Regions from separate parts of the Homo sapiens genome. Here region 2 is linked to region 1. The links come from fine-mapping of genetic effects on gene expression. A gene starts in region 1. The other region holds a variant in brackets. All regions are shown on one strand. Distances are between the middles of the regions. Region 1 holds the start of HADHA (hydroxyacyl-CoA dehydrogenase trifunctional multienzyme complex subunit alpha). Region 2 overlaps DTNB (dystrobrevin beta).

What was found. PIP is the estimated chance that this variant, and not a neighbour inherited with it, causes the effect.
Region 2: its variant is the best candidate, but not a certain one, in a credible set for the expression of HADHA in whole blood (Lepik 2017, PIP 0.85).

The regions. Positions count from the first base shown.
Region 1 is chr2:26,243,235-26,246,147 of GRCh38, reverse strand. HADHA (hydroxyacyl-CoA dehydrogenase trifunctional multienzyme complex subunit alpha) reads left to right here and starts at 1,516. Exons shown (of 20, transcript NM_000182.5): 1 at 1,516-1,618. The coding sequence starts at 1,552. HADHB (hydroxyacyl-CoA dehydrogenase trifunctional multienzyme complex subunit beta) reads right to left here and starts at 1,209. Exons shown (of 16, transcript NM_000183.3): 1 at 1,158-1,209. RefSeq lists enhancers at 1-181, 1,040-1,139, 994-1,674.
Region 2 is chr2:25,627,833-25,630,745 of GRCh38, reverse strand. DTNB (dystrobrevin beta) reads left to right here. Exons shown (of 21, transcript NM_021907.5): 4 at 2,362-2,575. Among named protein-coding and RNA genes, the nearest start is that of DTNB, 44 kb to the left of the region's middle. The variant A/G (reference allele first, on the strand shown) is at 1,129.

The DNA.
Region 1 (2,913 bases):
CTTGTAAGATTATCAAGAATCCTTTTTGCAATTTATTCAGAAGTGGTCAGGTCATCCAGTTTCTGCTTAAAGTGCTCACATGATGAGCACTCACTATGCAACTTGAGCTTTAAACAGAAACCTCTCTACTCTGTCTCTATACTCATTTCAGTCTTAACTTCGATGCCCCTTGTTTCCTGTCCTGCAGAGCTGTCAGTCTGGCGAGTAGTGAGACTCAGACTTATGTCTGAATGCTAGGTCTGTCACAGACTAGAAAATGTATATATTCTGAGCTTCCCAAACTTCATCTAGAAAATGCAAATGATAATAATTTGGGGAATGTGAGGACTAAACAAAAAGGTATGAAGGTGACCAGAGCACAGCAGGCTCTCAATGTGACTTCCTTTTGAAATCAATCACTTTATTCCAGGACTCCAGCCCATCATTCCAGCACAAAAACAGCTACCATGCAATGAAGAACTCTTCACTAGGAGTTAGTAGACTTAGGCTCCAGTCTTATTTCTACTACATATGGCCATGGGTAAAATCACTCTCTCTGATTCGTAGGCAGTTTCTTCACCGCTTAAGTGAGCTGAGGTGTGAACGACCAGATAGATAATCATCCAGATCGGAAAACCCCCGAGAGCGCAGGATTATCTGGATAACGGAGCCGGATGGAGGATTGTCTCCGTTCCTCCCACACTCAAGCCCCGAAAGGTCACCTGACCTAGTCTTATTCTTTACAGCAGAAATCGGGCAAACCCATGGCGCCGTCCACAATCTCTATAGCCGCCGACCTGGGTACAGGGGAAGCAGGCGAAACAACACACACTTCTACGCAGACCAGGGTTACATTAAGGCCGACGCCCACACACGCCCACACACACCCACACACACACACACACCCCCACACCCCCAGACTTCGTTAACTTGTGATGATAAATTAGGGCGCAGGTGACACTACTGTCCCGAACTTCAGCTGGAACGCTAGTCCAAGTCACTGTCCTAACTGCAGCTAGCACTGCCGACCTTGTCCGAGGAGTTTCCTTCCGCTCCCTCAACTCCCACTTTCCCAGGGAGGGGAGGGGGCCGGGGGCACCGGCGACAGTTGCGGGGAAGGAAGTGGAATCTCGCCTTTGGGAAAGCCCGGGCGGAGAGCTGAGGGCTCGCCGTCTCACCTTGGCTGACGTCCGCGAGGACTCCCTCTCGGAGCAAGGTTCAGGTCCAAGTACCAAGGCTCTGCGGGACCAAGGGGCGGGTCCTGCCCAGAAAGGGCCCCTCACCCCGCGGGCGGTCAGGGCCGTTCTTGAGGGCTGCCCTCCGGCCGCCTGACTGGAAAACCAGGCACTCCACCCCCTCCTCTCCGGGCCCCCGTCCTCCCCCGGAGAATACGACCTTTCGGCCATGTTAGCCAGGAGCGAGGGGCAGGGCTAAGGGGCCGGCGGCCACTCGGCATCTGGGTTTTAGTCAGGCAGTGCTCCAGGCGCCTGGCTGCCAGGCTACGGGAGAAAAGTCCTCCGCTCGGCCGCACCCGTTAGAGGCGCTCTCCACTGCTGTCCTCTTCAGCTCAAGATGGTGGCCTGCCGGGCGATTGGCATCCTCAGCCGCTTTTCTGCCTTCAGGATCCTCCGCTCCCGAGGTGAGGCCTGGCCGAGGGCATCCCAGACCTCCGGGCAGAACTCCTGCCGGGACTGGGGTGGCCCCGGAGCCGCGTCTCCCTTTCGCTGCCGCCTGCCCCAGCCCGGAGACGCAGCCCTCTGTGGGGATACTGCCCTGGGACCCGGTTTCCCGTGACCTTCTGAAGAGACTGTCACTTCCCCTCTCACGACTCCTGCGGCGATTTCAGGCTTCCTAACTCCCCAACTTTCTGAGTCTGGTGCCACTCGTTCTGTCACCTTTCCGCGGGTCTCTTGCGTCGCACTTCTGGGCTCACGCCCCTCATATTTTCTTGATCCGGAGTTCCAGGAGAATCGGGATCCATTCTGTCGCATCTTTGTGGCTCCACAGCACCTTGCCCCGCAACAAGAGCTGTCTTAAAAACAGCACCTTACCCCGCAACAAGCGCTGTCTTGTATGGGATTAATCAGCCTTGCAGATCACTGCCCCTCCCTGCTCCGTTCCCTCAAAACCATTTTTGTGCTTACTACCCCAATCAAGTAGGGAGCTCAACTCTTGCAGTTTCAGTAATGTCAGTGTGAACGTATAGTATTTTGAATTTCAGCGGGAAGTTCTGCAACTTACTGGAAGACACACTTTAAAAATACGCTAATACCTCTACCTTAAGCAATAAAATGTTAGATCGTTCTGAGAACGATTTGTAATCTGATGATTCCCAGTCAGCCTGTATTAGCTAGTGTTTTTCCTTTTCAAACTGGCAGTGAAAGGGTTAAAGTGGGTGGTTGTAGGAAACGTTGCATTTTCTTTCCATCCCAAATCTGTAAAGTCAAAAGTGGACAACGTTTTATTGCATGTTGTGCTTAATAAGTTACTTAACTAGAAATTTTAACTTTTAATTTAATTTGTAATATGAATTACCTCTCTTCCCTCTTCCGGAACCGCTGAAGTAGTATGCTTTTTTTAGACAAGTAGCTGAAATCCCTTACTGTAAGGGGATTTTTTTAATGATTGAATATTTTTCTGCTCCCTTTTTTCAACAGCTGTTTTTAGTCTCCACAAAACTGTAGCATGTATTTGCCAATTATAACATAAGCACATTATAGAACATTGAAATGCTGTAAGGATTGAGGAAAGAGATGAAAAAAAAACGAATCACCCATTGTCTTACTACTCATATGCTTACCTACGGTTAGCCTTCGGTTATGTTTCCTTACAGGTTTGGTGGTTTTTTTCCCCTATTTTCACAACACTTTTGAAAAGTAACGTGTAATTTTTATCTTACCCCTGCATTGGTTTGAAGGTATTTCTTATGGATCG
Region 2 (2,913 bases), 620 kb after region 1:
CAGCCTCCTGAGTAGCTGGGATTACAGGCGTGTGCCACCACACCTGGCTAATTTTGTATTTTTAGTAGAGATGGGGTTTCTCCATGTTGGCCAGGCTGGTCTCGAACTCCCAACCTCAAGTGATCCACCCGCCTCGGCCTCCCAAAGTGCTGGGATTACAGGCATGAGCCACCGTCACCGTGCCTGGCCACTTCATCCCTTTTTTTGGTCAAATAGTATTCCATTATATGCATATGCCACATTTTATTTATCCGTGTATCTATATTGATGGACATTTGGGTTGTTTTCACTTTTGGCTTTTATGAATAATGCACCTATGAACATTTGTACAAGATTTTGTGTAGACATATGTTTTCAATTCTGTAGGAGTGGAATTGCTGGGTCGTATGGGACCTGTGTGTAACTTCTTAAGGAACTCCTAAATTGTTTTCCAAAGCAGCTGCATGCTTTTGCATTTGCACCAGCAGTTTATGAGAATTTCAACTTCTCTACATCCTCGCTGACCCTTGTTTTCCATTTAAATAAAAAGTCTAGCTATTCTGGCTGGTGTGAAGTGGTATGTTATCGTAGTTTTCTTTTGCATTTCCCTAAATGACTAATGATGTTGAGCATCTTTTCATGTGCTTGTTGGCCATTTGTATATCTTCTTTGGATAAATATCTATTTAAATTATTTTCCCATTTTTAAATTGGGTTATCTTTTTTTAATTGTTGAATTGTAAGAGTTTTTATGTGTCTGGATCCCAGACCCTTAATGGATGCATGGTTTACAAATATTTTTTTCCATTCTTTGGGTTGCCTTTTCACTTTCTTGATAGTATCCTTTGAAACACAGACTTTTAAAATTTAAATAAAATGCAGCGTATCTCTTTTTTGCTGCCTGTACTTGAAGTGTCTTGTTCCTGATCTTGAGGGGAGAGCTTTCAGTCTTCCCTGATTAAGTATGATGTTGGCATTGGGATTTGTTGTAGATGCCCTTTATCAGGTTGAGGAAGTTTTCTTCTGTTTTTAGTTTGTTGTGTTTTTATTATGAAAGGGTATTTGATTTTTCCAAATGCTACTTCTATGTCTATTGAGTTGATCATATGGTTTTCCAAGCTCCGCCCTCCCCCCTTTTTTTCCTGTTACG[A/G]ATAAAGTTACATCACCTTTGTTTTGGTTGAAAATTGTCATCCACTTATATTTAAATCTTTTTTATGTCCTTTTGTTTTAGACATATCCCTTACAAACAGCGTATAATTTGGTTATTTAAAAAATTGTGAATTTGTCAGTCTTTGTCTTGTAAGTGGTACGTTAGTGTGTTTATAGTCACTGCAGTTAACTGACATATTTGGGTCCGCACCAGCCATCTTTTCTTGTGCTATTTTTGCTGCTTGTTCTGTGTTTCTTGCCTTCTTTTGAATAGTTGTGTTTTCCTAATTTCAGTTCTTCCCCTAGTTTTTCAGCGTTGGAAAGTATACTTTCAGATTTCCTTTACTTGAAAATGTCTTTATTGAACCTTTTTTCTTGAAAGTTTTTTTATACTAGGTGTAGAATTTTGTTGGTGGTTTTGATTTCTTTTCAACACATTAAAATTATTTTGCAGTCTTCTGCTTCCTTTGTTGCTTGAAGTCAGGCATCATTCTTAATTATTTTTCTTTCAAGGAAATGTCTCTTTTCTGTGTAGTTGAGTATTGTTTACTTTTTTTGTGCACTTAAGAAGTTTTTATATTCCATCCAGGAATTTTTGTCGTTTTCAAGAAGAGTGTAGACCCAGCTACCGCGCCTACTTTATTACTGGAAATGGAATTTAAAAGAAAGTCAGCCTCTTAAATAATGGAGGAAATATGCAGTAGATAAATTTATTTTTGGCTGAGCTATGAGTTGTTCAGAGCTCTGAGTAGCCTCTAAAGCATATTAATATTTTACTTAATGCAGTTGTATTTGTCTCTCTCTTTAGGGTCATACAGTAAAGTTTCAGTTGTAAAATGTTGCTTTAGTTGCTCGGCTAAAGTAATACAGTAAAGCTGACTCAAGGTAATACAGCAAATTTTCAAAAAGACTAGAAGTTCTTAGGAGTAGTTCTTGATCTTTTTATCAAGTTATCCATTGTTAGGAATTGCATGGGTCACTATTTGCAGAGACGTGAAATACTCGCTATTTAAATGTGAAGGCTGGAAGTAGTCCTTCCCATACCGCTGTGGTGGCTCCTTGATGTTGTCTGGGACTGATGTTCTTTATTTGACCACAGAATGTTTTCCTCATTGTTGGCTAAAGAGTTTCTTCTCTTTAAACTTAAGAACTAGTTGATAAATTTTAGATTCCTATTGTGAAGGGTAGTACCACACTTTAAAATTGTTGACAGTTTATTTTCTTTGTCTTTTAGTTCATCTTGTTGATATCTGGAACATGATTGAAGCCTTCCGAGACAATGGCCTTAATACACTGGACCATACCACCGAGATCAGTGTGTCCCGCCTCGAAACTGTCATCTCCTCCATCTACTATCAGTTGAACAAGCGCCTTCCTTCTACTCACCAAATTAGTGTGGAACAATCTATCAGCCTCCTCCTCAACTTTATGATTGCTGCATATGACAGGCTAGTAGTACCTTACCTTACACGCTTACTTCATTTTAAGAACACCTGTCTCTGAATCATTCTTCTTCCATACTGCCGTGCTAAGTTGCCTTGCTAAGCTGGCAACTTAGAATCATGATTAAAAGGGAAATTATTGGCTGGGCACGGTAGCTCACAGCTGTAGTCCCAGCACTTTGGGAGGCCAAGGAGGGCAAATCACAAGGTCAGGAGATGGAGACCATCCCGGCTAACACGGTGAAACCCCGTCTCTACTAAAAATACAAAAAATTAGCCGGGCGTGGTGGTGGGCGCCTGTAGTCTCAGCTACTTAGGAGGCTGAGGCAGGAGAATTGCTTGAA